2 separate regions of the Homo sapiens genome follow, and region 2 is linked to region 1. Evidence: fine-mapped QTL for protein levels in blood plasma. Region 1 holds a variant in brackets. A gene starts in the other region. All regions are shown on their reverse strands.

Region 1 (8,531 bases):
GAGCTTATTTTAAGAGAAAATTTGGAAGAGCTAGAAAATAGAAGTGGAAAAAGGGAGTCAGCAGAAAGCTGATCAGAGAAAAACAAGATCAGAGGGCGGGAAGAGAGGGTGCAGATATAAAGGAAAAGCTTTGTCCTGGTTGTGGTGGGTGCACAATGGTTAACTCTATGCTATCCTTGCTCACAAGGAACTTTCTGTCTAGGTGAGTGGCTTATACTTTAGAGGGGAAGAAGGAGCATTAATGATTGGTCCCATCTGGGATTCTTCTCTTAGAAATTGACCCGTGTTCCTCTGTGGCAGTCTTACTATAAATTATGAGTTCTTACAGTGTTTTCTTCTAAAGATGGAGTCTTAGTCTATTAGAGCTGCTGTAACAAAAATGTCATAAATTGTATAGATTATAAATAACAGAATCTTATTTCTCATGTCCTGGAGGCTGGGAAGGGCAAGATCAAAGTATTGGTAGATTGGTGTCTGGTGAGTGCCAATTTCCACGTTCATAGAAGGCACCGTCTCACTGTATCCTCCCATGGTGGAAAAGGAGCTAGCTAGCTTTCCGAGGTCCCATCAATAAAGGCATTCATCCCATTCATGAGGACTTTGCCCCCATGACCTAATTACCTCCCAAAGGCCCCACCTCCTAATGCCCCCATGACCTAATTACCTCCCAAAGGCCCCACCTCCTAATGTCATCACCTTGGGGATTAGGATTTTGCCATACAAATTTTGTGGGGAGACAAACATTCAGACCATATCAGAGCCCTCAAGCCTAGAACACACACACTGATGCAGTTCTTAGGGAGGTCAGTACTTCATATATCCCAGCATTTTCTGTGAAAATAATAAATCATGGTCTCTGGAGTAAATCCTTTCTAAAGTGTTACAACTATGTAGGAGTCTCAGTGTTCACATTATTATTCAGCAGAAACACCAAACGAATGTATAATAAATGTAGCACTTATTCAGTTTACATATATGTATTAGAAATAAGCCTGTTTTAAAAAATTATAATCAAAATGTAGTTTGACCTTATTTAAATATTTTCTATCTTTTTACTTATATATTAACAGATATTTTCCATTTTAATTTCCAGTGCTCTGGGGTATATGATGAATGTCCAATATAGCACAAAGCAGTAAATTTCTCTTTATTGTTGTTATTTATTGTTGAGACATGCTTCATTAAACAGTCCCTGTCTTGTTACTGAAACAACTTAGTATGGTTTTGCACAACTAATGGTTTTCATCAGCATTCATCATTGAATTGTTTTCCACCGAAGAAATTGGGTTGGTGTTTTAAATGTTGTCTATGTTAGAATGGGCAATTATATTACCAAAAAGGTAGATGGGTAAGTTTTAGGAAGAAGCTAATTTAAATCAGTCAATAAAATGGTCTCTGTAGAGAGTTGCATGATACTTATAGAAATCTACTGCTTATGCTTTTATTTAGGAGGTTAAATACCTATTATTTTCTCTGCAACTTGTCAATCAGAAAGAAATACAACATTAGTTTTGGCTTGCAATGATTAGAATGGGCATTTTTTTCTTTTGTGAAGGAAAGTGTAATGAGCTAAGATCCAGGAGTATTATAGTCTAGCTGAGTTATCTATGACCCTCCACAGCCTCATCAATAAAATGACAGAAGGGCTGACATCTTTTCTCTAAATTTCCTTCAAATTCTGATGCTTTATAGTTATGAAACTATTTATTTTTACCACAAAATATCCCTTTCATATGTTAAAAAGGAATGAAGACACACAGAGAATTAGCTTACCAAAAAGCATTAGGAGGGAGTCTCCTATAATGGAAGGAGAACCCAGCTGGGAATGTGAAGACTAGAGTTCCAGTTTTAGCTCTGTCAATAGCTAGCTTTGTGACCTATTCAGTCTTCCATAAAGTTATTTTCAGTTCTAAGATTCTGTGGGCTCAACCATGAAGTAAAATTCAGCGTAAAGGCATATAACTCTACCTGATATTATTAGGAAATAAACTTTGGACGTAGGAAGATGTAGGGAACCTTGGGTGTGATGAATTTTGTTTTTTTCCTTAGCATCTACCTTGTTAGGTAGGTGTTAAAAACTACATACATAGCTTTCTAGATTACTTTTGACATGACTTTGTTGAGGTTTGAACAGGTGTAGGATCATTACCCTGACCCCGTAAATCCTCTCTGAGTTTGGAACTGGTTGAGAAATTGTCAAGAGTCAGATAGTTCAGGATTAAATGATCAGCTATTAACATTGGATTTGTGTGTGAGCTTAGATGCTTCCTAAGTAGTGGAAAATTGAATTGTTTCTGTTTTTCCTTAAGCTTATGCTTTGGGATAATCCATCAGAACAACGTAAAGAAGGCCAACTTAGATCGTTACTGCCTCATCTCTACTGAACCCTAGTAGAGGAGACAGGGGGATAAGGTGCTCCAAGAAGGAAGTTTGAGCCTTGACCCACGTATATTTACTACATTAAGTTTAGGATCTAGAAGAGAAGGCCAGCGGCAATGAGAGAAGAGGGGAATTCACTACAAACAATTGGGATTTGTGGTCTGGAAGAAGTGTGGATCTGAATACAGACCTCTGTAAAGATATTGTTAGTTCACCCTTTCTTGGAGGCCTCAAAATATTTGTCACCAGGGCCTGTTGCCCTCATAAAAGACCCCTATTCTCTACATATCTTAGTGACTATAAAGGGGCTGAGCCATACTTCCAGTGTCTTGTTTTAATCTCCCCAATTACCTGTGTCTCTCCTCCTCATTTAAAAAACACAGAAGATATGTGAGGACTCTAGAGGAAGTGTTATTCCAGAAGCCCCTTCTTGGAAACATGATACTAGGACATTGGCAGTTTTCCCTAACAGACTTTCTTATCTTTCTGCTTGTGGCAGCAAATATTTATTAGAAATACATTTTTTCCTATTAACATTAAAGCTGAATATACTCAAGGCAAGCTGATGTCCATAAACAATTATGCATCAGTTAGCCAGAAATTTTTTTTCTGACTCTTGGGTGTTAATCTGGGGAAAACATATTAATTCTTGTTTAAGGATTCTATAGAAGTGTTCTGGTCTTCTAAAAGGTCCTTGTAAGAATGAGTTAGTATAAGGTTTGCTCATGAAGCTCAAAGGGCTGTTTAGAAATCTTCAGATCATAGTGAGATTTGTTTCTCTGGGGGAACTAACCTAATACACTGCTAATCACTGTTGCCCTAGTTTCTCCTTTACAAAAGTTTTGGACTGTCATATTTGGTTTTATATTAGATCATGCTAGATTAGCTTTCTTGCATGTAGAAGAAATCCTGGGAGCTTTGATGATGATGGCAAAAATACAGATGCCTTGGTGTAGCAATTGTGTAAATATGGTGTAGCCTAGAGAAAAAGGACAGCTCTCATCCTCCCAAATGTCCCTTTACCTGTCTTTGTGAATATACTTTATAAATAATCTCCCTCATTCTCCTTCTATATACATCAGAAAAGATAGGATTAGAATTGTGTCAGAGCTGGGCAAGAATACTAAGGGATGTTGGTGACTAGAAGACCAGGAAGACAATGAAATAGAAAGGTATCTAGAAATCTAAAGGCTAGAAATAAGGTAAAATCTAAAATAAAACTAGGATTTGTGCTAGCAAAGCAGAGCTGACCACGAATTCAATTACCAAAATCTGTGGCTGTTACTTTTTGACGACACTGAAAATCTACACAAGTAGTCTTGCAGTGCATCAATTAAATGCAAAGAAAAACCGTAAAGCTAAGTGCTATTCCAGATGTGTGGAGGATGGAGAAGACAAAGCCCTGTTTTTATTACAATCTTGAGCTGGCTTGCCTGGGTTAGAATCTTGGCTTCTCATGTTATCTTGGATAAATTGTTTAAAGTATTATATCTGTGTTTTAGTTTCATCATCTCTAAAATGAGGTTAAAAATAGTACCTACTCTTCTAAGAATGTATATTTTGGCTGGGGTATGGTAAAGTTAGTGCAGCCGCAAGAGAAAACAAGAACAAAGCTTAGAAAGGAATTTATTCTACTCACAGGGCCCAATGAGGTAGTCACCACACACCATGCAGGACCACAGGGGGAAAGCACCAGTGTCAGTCAAGAGCCAGAAGACAGGAACAAGGGGCAAGTCTAGGCCAGAGCCTTTCTTGAGGTTTCTGTGCGAAAAGGAAGGCAGAGCAGAGTAAACAGTTTAGGATTGGCCAGTTTGAATGATTCCAGAGGACTTTGGGCTATAAGGGTGATCTCTAGTTGCCTGGTAACTGGGAAGATTTAGGGCAAGGGAAATATTGGTTTGTTGTGTGAG[AGT/T]TAGATAAGGAGTTTGGGGCTGTAGATTCAGGATTGGTTGGTTTGTACGTGAGAGCTGTGCTCTCAGCTAAGACCTTCGCCGACTCTCAGAATTAGCCAGCTCTAGGGAAGATAGTCTCTTTCTGGGTCTGTAAGGCCACCAGATTCTAGAGCATCAAGAACTATAGAAATTAAGAAAATGTAGTTTAATAAAGCTGGCCCTGTTTTGAATGGATGCCTCACAGACGAATACAGAATCCAAGAAATCACAGCATACCTACCTTATTGTGAGGTTTAATGATTTAACACATACATAGTTGAATGACCCAGACTGGTTGCATGTCCCCAGTCTAACTGCATGAGAGGTTGGGGCATAGAGAGGAGCACATAGAATACTTGAGGAACACGGCTATCTGTGCTGTGCAGATGGGGCTCAGAACAACTATGCTTTGTAGAGCATATAGGAGAGTTTGGAAGGCCATTGGGATACTTTAAACAATTGGCTGTGGTGAGTGCTATATTGCACAGAATAATTAAGTTGAAACAATATATATATCTACATGATTTTCAAGCAGCTAATTTTATAAAATGTGCTTGTAAGTATATAGAGCATCAAATGGACTAAAAGTTATATACAGAATTTTAAACATTTTTACTGGTTTGATTGGCCTTTTGTTGATATCCAGGATGAAAAACAGGGCACAAAAGAAAATGCACTAATAAGGGATGTTTTATTTTACATCACAATAGAGATCAGTAGTTACTTTGGTTGAGACATGTTGGAGACAGCCATGCTGTCTGTAGGAGGGTAATGTGAGCCTTTAGGAAGCCATGGATGTGACACTATGAAGGACAAATTTTGCCATCGCTGCCACCACGCCTGTGAAACTGGGTTAAATGGTGGTGGTGGGGAATGGATGGGTTTTGGCCTGGAATCTATAAGACCTGAGTATGGATCTGTCTTTGCCACTTCTTAACTATGTGACTTTGAGCCATTCCCTATGTAAGATGGAGACAACAATGATTTGCCAACCTGGTGGTAGGGTTTCAGGAGATGTTTATGAAAGTATTTCCAGAGAGAGCTCATTTCCACTCTCCTAGTTCTGTTTCTATCATAATGGCTGCCCCACAGGTATCCCAAATTTCATATAAACTTCACTAGGAAAGTAGATATTTCACTCTTGCAATTCTTATGTTGTTTCATTGTATATGTAAATGGATAAAAGTTTAGGCTTTGCATTGTCTGACTTTACTTCTCTAAGAGTTAGTTTACTCATCCTTAAAATGATGATGATAATAGCATCAACCTAATGGGTAGTTACGATAATTAAATGCAGTTACACAAGTAGGACACTCAGTTCCTGACACATAACAATCACTCAATAAATGGTTGCTGTTATTAGTTTCATTTCATTACACATGAAGGACTTTGATCTACACTTCTGAGATTTAGATGCAAAATAATCTATGACTCATTAGCAGAATCAGTGAGAAAATAAGCAGAATGAGTGACTAATGTTAAGCAGAAACTATTGGTCAAAGGAACTGCTATGAAAGGACAAATGAATCTTCTATATCTTCAGCAAGCCTCTACTATAGTTCAGGGTGTTTCATAGAGAAACTATACCACTAATAAAAAGCTATTGACGTTTTGTAATTCTAAAAAAAAAATGCCACCAAATTCCTTACATATCTTGATTCACAATGAACTTTTATTGTTACATTGGCAACTTAAAGTAAAAATAAAAGAGCTATTGTTTCACTTAGATGGAAATTATTTAAGAAAAAAATACTCTGATGACTGTTCAGTTATATAACTAACAAGCATCTATTCATTGGGCACTGAAGTAGGTATCTCAGGAGATAAAATGTCAATAATAACTAATATTTGCCATGAAAAAATGTATTCAAAGCAATGAGACCAGGCTGGTACTGAGAGCCCCAAAACGTTAATTCTTCCTTATTCCTCCTGAGGAAATTTTAAGTGATTTGGAGGGATAAGACATATGAAAAATAAGGCTTAATACAAGAAACAGTTAAAAGAAAACAAAAACAAACCCTATCACTTGAGTAGAGCCTGTAGGGAATGGCATAGGATTTCCACGGTTCATCCTCAAGAAAAGCTTCTAGGGGTGGTGGGATTTTAATGTTCCTGGGAGCAGTAGAAATTGTGAGATAATGCCTGGTAATTACCATAAACTTGAAGCCAAATAGCTGGGAAAACATGTTCCAGGACATTGCAGATCAAATCATATTTCTATAAAAAGAATCTGCTGGATGTTCAGCTGACAGAATATCAACCATAAAAGGATAGTTTAATGGATTTCAATCATTATCTAAACACAAAATCACAGAGCCAAGTTTATGTGCATTGTTAATCATATGCTGTGAATCCGGTAAAAGAAAATGTAATACAAGCATCAGATGAGATGTTTTTTCTTTTCTGATTTTTAAATGGTAACATTTTATTTTTGAGAACCATTAAAAAAGAGTGATTGCTTGGAGCAGCCATCTAAGGGAAGTCCATTCTCTTTGTAAGGAAACAAAATGGTGCTCCAGTGGAAGAGCTCTGGAAACAGTGAGTGGTTCATAGAGCTACTGAATTCCTTGCTTTTGCTAATACTCAAATTTTAAAAGAAAACATGTCCCAATCCAAGGATTCTTGTGATATATTTGTGTTGGTGTGTGTGTGTGTGTGTGTGTGTGTGTGTGTGTCTAAATTTTAAATTTATATTTTAAACCAGCAGTCACTTTTCCCATTTTAAATTATACAATCACTTAGTTGTTTCCTGAACTATTTTAAATCAACAAGTTTTCTTTGAAAATATTTTTTTAAAAAATAGATCTTGCAGACTTAAGAAAATAAGAGTATTCCTTAAGGTAGATGGTGTAAAATAAATAAAATCAGTAGATTTCTAACACGTTCTTGAATAGAAAACACAAACGGAAATTATCCCATTTACATTTATAACTAAGCAACATTTAATATCTAGAAATAGTCTTAAGAAATGTAAAATGAACAAGATATGTAAAATTATAACATTTTATATGATAATAAAAGATTTGAGAACATTACAAAACATTTGATTAAGTGGGGAGACACAATTTAGAAAAAGTAGGCTTTATTTTTTAAAAGAGGTCAATTCTGTTTGAATTTATTCTATTTGCATTGTAATATCAATCAAAATTCTCATTTGCTGTGGGAAGGTGGTGAGGAGCTTGATAAAATGATTTCAAATTTTACTTTGAAGAATAAACATGCAAGAACAGCTAGAAGAATTCTGAAAAACAAAAATATGAAGAATGAGCCTTGCCTTGTCAGGTGTTAAGATGTACCACAAAAACACTGAAGTTAAAACAATGTGGAACTGGCTAGGAAATAGATGGTTGAGAAACAAAACATCTAACCTCAGATCCAACTATGTATAGGGATATTTAGTATATAATAAAGTTAGCATTTTGAATCAGTAGGGAAAAATGCATTAATGAATAAATGCTTATCCAATATGTAATAATTTGGGGAAACACATCATTCCTACAGTGTTCTTTACATAATTTGTACTTGTTTTAAAAGCCTGTAAAACTAACAGCAGAAAATATAATTAGATTTTAAATGTAATATTAGGGTGGGAAGGCCTTTGTAAGCATAACACAAAAAAACTGAAACAATAAAAAACAAGATTGACAAACGTAAATATAAAAATTACATCTATTCACAAGGTCAGGGGCTCGAGACCATCCTGGCCAAAATGGTGAAGCCCTGTGTCTACTAAAATACATAAAATTAGCCGGGCGTGGTGGTGCATGCCTGTAGTCCCAGCTACTCTGGAGGCTGAGGCAGGGGAATTGCTTGAACCCGGGAGGCGGAGGTTGCAGTGAGCTGAGATGTGCAACTGCACTCCAGCCTGGTGACAGAGTAAGACTCCTGTCTCAAAAAATAAAATAAAATAAAATAAATAAAATAAAATAAAATAAAATAAAATGTACTTCTATATCAGATAAACAGTCCAAGTGAGGTTGAATGACAGATGACCAGTAGAAAAAAGCATTTTTCATGTATGTGATACAAAGAGGCCTATTATTCTTAATATACAAAAATCTCTTACAAATCAATAAGAGTTTACATCTCAATAAAAAATGTACAGCAAAAATACAGCATACACCAAAAGCGCTTTGTTCAAGATAATTAATGAGACACCAAGACCTGAAGAGGAGGAGAACTAATATTGCACTTAAGAGATAAAATATAAATCAGAATTGT
Region 2 (3,968 bases), not on the chromosome of region 1:
TGCGTCTGCCCCAGTTACGGTGAAAACTCTTCATCTCCACTTCTAAGAACCTCGACGTCTGGTCCCCAGAACCCTCCCCAGGTTAGGGACCCGGGAACCCAGCCCCCCACCCTCTGCTCCCCCTGCCCCAGGAGTGGGGACCCTGGCTCCGCCCCTTGGGGACCTAGAGTCCAAGTCTCCTCACGCACCAGGCTTGCCCCAGTTGGGTGTGGAAGGGGCCAAGCCGGGTGACAGCCAGAGACCGAAAGTGAAAGGAAATTTTTGGGGGGAGACAGTCAAGGGGTGGAATCTGGGCCCAGGCGGAGCGCGCCCCCTGGTGGTGAGAGGCGGCCGCTCACGCCGCAGATGGCGCGTTCTCCGGACGCCCCGCAGCGGGGGCTGCAGTGGGGCTGACTCCCTGGGTGGCACGCCCAGTGCATGGTGAGCTGGGGCTGGAACCCGGATCTGTCTCTGGGAACTCGCAGTTGCTGTGTCTTACCGTCCTCCGGGCCCCAACTTTGCCCCGCCAAGGCTTGGCACACAGGACTCAGGATGCATCTTGTCACATTGGGCCTGGCAGGTGTCGCCCTAGCACTAGCTTTATCACTGTGGGAGCTTGGCCAGCCCCTTGACCTCTCTAAGCCTCGGCTTCTCCAACTCCAAACTGAGGGGTGAGGTGGTACATGAGACAAAATAGAAGCTCTCTTCCACATCTGTGGATCTCTGAATCTCTGAAGCATTTTTTTTTTTTAGATGGGGTCTCACTCTGTTGCCCAGGCTGGAGTGCAGTGGCACAGTCTCGGCTCACGGCAACCTCCGCCTCCTGGGCTTAAGCAATTCTTGTGCCTCAGGCTCCCAAGTAGCTGGAATTGCAGGTGCGTGCCACCATGCCCGGCTAATTTTTGTATTTTTAGTAGAGACGAGGTTTCACTATGTTGGCCAGGCTGATCTCGAACTCCTGACCTCAGGTGATCAGCCTGCCTCGGCCTCCCAAAATGCTGGGATTACAGGTGTGACCCATCACGCCCATCCTGAATCTCTTGCTCACCCATCTGATCCGTGGCAGACTGTCCTGAAACATCTGCTGCCCCCACCCCCCCAGCAGGAGGATTCGAGGTCCCATCCTGGGGAACTCGGACATGGCCACACTCACTTTGGCCAGTCACATGAGGGTGGAGGTGACAGGTGTCACTTCTGAATGGAAGTCTAAGGGACCGGGGAGTGGATGGTGGAGGATGCATGGAGAGAGCGCCTCTATCAGCCAAGTTTCCTGTGCCACTCGGAGGAGCACAGGGATCCTGCCAGCCCCGGATGAGCACAGGGAGTGTAAGCAACAAACTAATGTTGTGGTTGTGGCCCACGCAGATTCGGGGGTTATGTGTTACTGCAGCAAAGCCTCGCCCGTCCTGGCCTTCATCATCCATTTCCCTTCCCTGATCCCTCTGCCTGCCTCACTTCCTGTTCAGCCTGGGTTAGCTGCCTTGTCGCACCCAATGGTCAGACCTTCCATCTGGCTAGAAAGATTTAAATGAAGCAGAGAGGCAGAGATACAAGCCCCAATAGCTCATGTGGCCCATGGACAAAGGACCTGCTCTAGCTCCTTCCTGACCAAGTCCTGGGGCCCCTCAATGTGTGTCCTGCCCTATCGCCCTATTGCCTCTAGGGAATCTCTGTAGCCTTCCAGAAGACTCCTCTCTCTCTCTCTTTTTTTTTTGAGACCGAGTCTCGCTGTGTTGCCCAGGCTGGAGTGCAGTGGCACGATCTTGGCTCACTGCAAGCTCCCCCTCTGCCTCCCAGGTTCAAGCAATTCTCCTGCCTCCCAGATAGCTGGGATTTCAGGTGCCGCCACCACGCCTGGCTAATTTTTATAATTTTAGTAGAGACGGGATTTCACCATGGTGCCCAGGCTGGTCTCAAACTTCTGACAAGTGATCCACCCACCTCGGCCTCCCAAAGTGCTGGGATTACAGGTGTGAACTGCCACACCTAGTCCGGAAAACTCTCATTTTTTTTTTCTTTGAGATGGAGCCTTGCTCTGTTGCCCAGACTAGAGTGAAGTGTGTGCTCTCAGCTCACTGCAACCTCTGCCTCCTGGGTTCGAGTGATTCTTCTGCCTCAGCCTCCTGAGTAATTGGGATTACAGGTGCCCGCCACCACACCCAGCTAATTTTTGTATTTTTAGTACAGACAGGGTTTCACTGTGTTGGCCAGGCTGCTCTCAAACTCCTGACCTCAGGTGATCCGCCTACTTCGGCCTCCCAAAGTGTTGGGATTACAGGCCTGAGTCACCGAGCCTGGCCTCTGAAAACTCCCTTTTATCCTAAACTAGTAAGAGTGGGTTTCTTACATCAAAAAGAATTCTACTTCAGGTGTGGTGGCTGATGCCTGCAGTCCCACACTTTGAAAGGCTGAGGCGAGAGGATCGCTTGAGGCCAGGAGTTCAAGACCAGCCTGAGCAACGTAGGTAGACTCTGCCTATTAAAAAAAAAAAAATTAGCCAGGCATGGTGGTGCGTGCCTGTGGTCCCAGCTGCTCAGGAGGCTGAGGTGGGAGGATTTTTTTTTTTTTTTTTTGAGACGGAGTCTCACTCTTTCGCCCAGGCTGGAGTGCAGTGGCTCGATCTCGGCTCACTGCAAGCTCCACCTCCCGGGTTCACGCCATTCTTCTGCCTCAGCCTCCCAAGTAGCTGGGACTACAGGCGCCCGCCACCATGCCCAGCTAATTTTTTTGTATTTTTAGTAGAGACGGGGTTTCACCGTGTTAGCCAGGATGGTCTTGATCTCCTGACCTCATGATCCACCTGCCTCGGCCTCCCAAAGTGCTGGGATTATAGGCGTGAGCCACCACGCCCGGCCGAGGTGGGAGGATTGAGCCCAGGTCGAGGGTGGGTTCAGTAAGCTGTGACTGCGCCACTGTATTACAGCCTAAAAAACAGAGCAAGATCCTTTATTTAAAAATCAACAGTCGTGCGCAGTGGCTTAAGTCTGTAATCTTAGCACTTTGGGGAGACCAAGACAGGCGGACCGCTTGAGGTCAGGAGTTTGAAACCAGCCAGGCCAAGATGGTGAAACCCCGTCTGTACTAAAAATACAAAAAATTATCTGGGTGTGGTGGCGCGAGCCTGTAATTCTAGCTACTCTGGAGGCCGAGGCAGGAGAATCGCTCGAACCTGGGAGGCGGAGGTTGCAGTGAGCCGAGATCACCCCGCTGCACTCCAGCCTGGCCGACAGAGAGACTCTGTCTCGAAAAAACAAAAAACAAACCAAAAAAACCCACCCACAACCAGAATCCTAAGGCAGTGGTGTGCTGAAGCGGCTCGTATTGGCTCATGGGAGCTGACCTGTTAACAATTCAGGATCTCGCAGGCAGTTGTTTAATCACCTGTACCTTGAAATCCGGCACGGTGGGAGCATTTACATCATGGAAATTGACAAAAGTCATATAGGAGGACTTTAATTTTATTCCAGAGAGTTCCTTTACTGCATATGGATTCTGGGGCCATGAAAAGGTAGAGAAAACCAGAGAGCAAGAGCCACCAGATGGAGAAGACAAGAAGATATGAGAGTCCTAAGGCCCTGTCTGGGGTCCTCGGGGGTCCCCTTTCTCTGTTTCACAAACACAGCACCGTGCTGGAGCCGGCTCCTGAGCTGCTCAACCTCAGAACTAAAATGGCCTCGAGCCAGGTGTGGTGGTGCATGTCTGTGGCCCCAGCTACATATGAGGCTGAGGCATGAGGATCCCTTGAGCCCCAGAGGTCGAGGCTGCAGTGGGCCGAGATTGTGCCACTGCGCTCCAGCCTGGGTGACAGAGCCAGACGTTGTCTCAAAAAAAAAAAAAAAAAAGAAAAAAGCCTCATATCTGCCAGAAGTTGCTACACCCTTTCTTCTCGCAGAAGCACAGCTAGGGTTGGTCAGAGAGTTTATTGGGAGACACAGGAACCAGAAGGGGAAAGTCCCAGGTGTCTGTGGGGTGCATCTCCCCTTGGTGTG

Direction of the effects. Alleles are on the strand shown, and positions count from the first base shown. The strength of an association depends on the size of the effect and on how common the allele is.
As copies of AGT replace T in region 1, the plasma level of the protein whose gene starts at base 255 in region 2 goes up (moderate association).

The links. PIP is the chance, under the fine-mapping model, that this variant and not a neighbour inherited with it causes the effect. Protein levels are from antibody-based Olink assays in UK Biobank. Linkage for the fine-mapping came from a reference panel and not from the study's own genotypes, which makes the PIPs less certain.
Region 2: FLT3LG starts here. The variant in region 1 is fine-mapped to the plasma level of the FLT3LG protein (UK Biobank, PIP above 0.99).

Annotation. Positions count from the first base shown.
Region 1 is chr4:104,939,133-104,947,663 of GRCh38, reverse strand. No RefSeq gene overlaps it. Among named protein-coding and RNA genes, the nearest start is that of TET2, 200 kb to the left of the region's middle. RefSeq lists an enhancer at 4,198-4,277. The variant AGT/T (reference allele first, on the strand shown) is at 4,290.
Region 2 is chr19:49,470,502-49,474,469 of GRCh38, reverse strand. It overlaps FLT3LG (fms related receptor tyrosine kinase 3 ligand), which reads right to left and starts at 255. Exons shown (of 9, transcript NM_001459.4): 1 at 189-255. It overlaps ALDH16A1 (aldehyde dehydrogenase 16 family member A1), which reads right to left. Exons shown (of 17, transcript NM_153329.4): 17 at 3,420-3,968.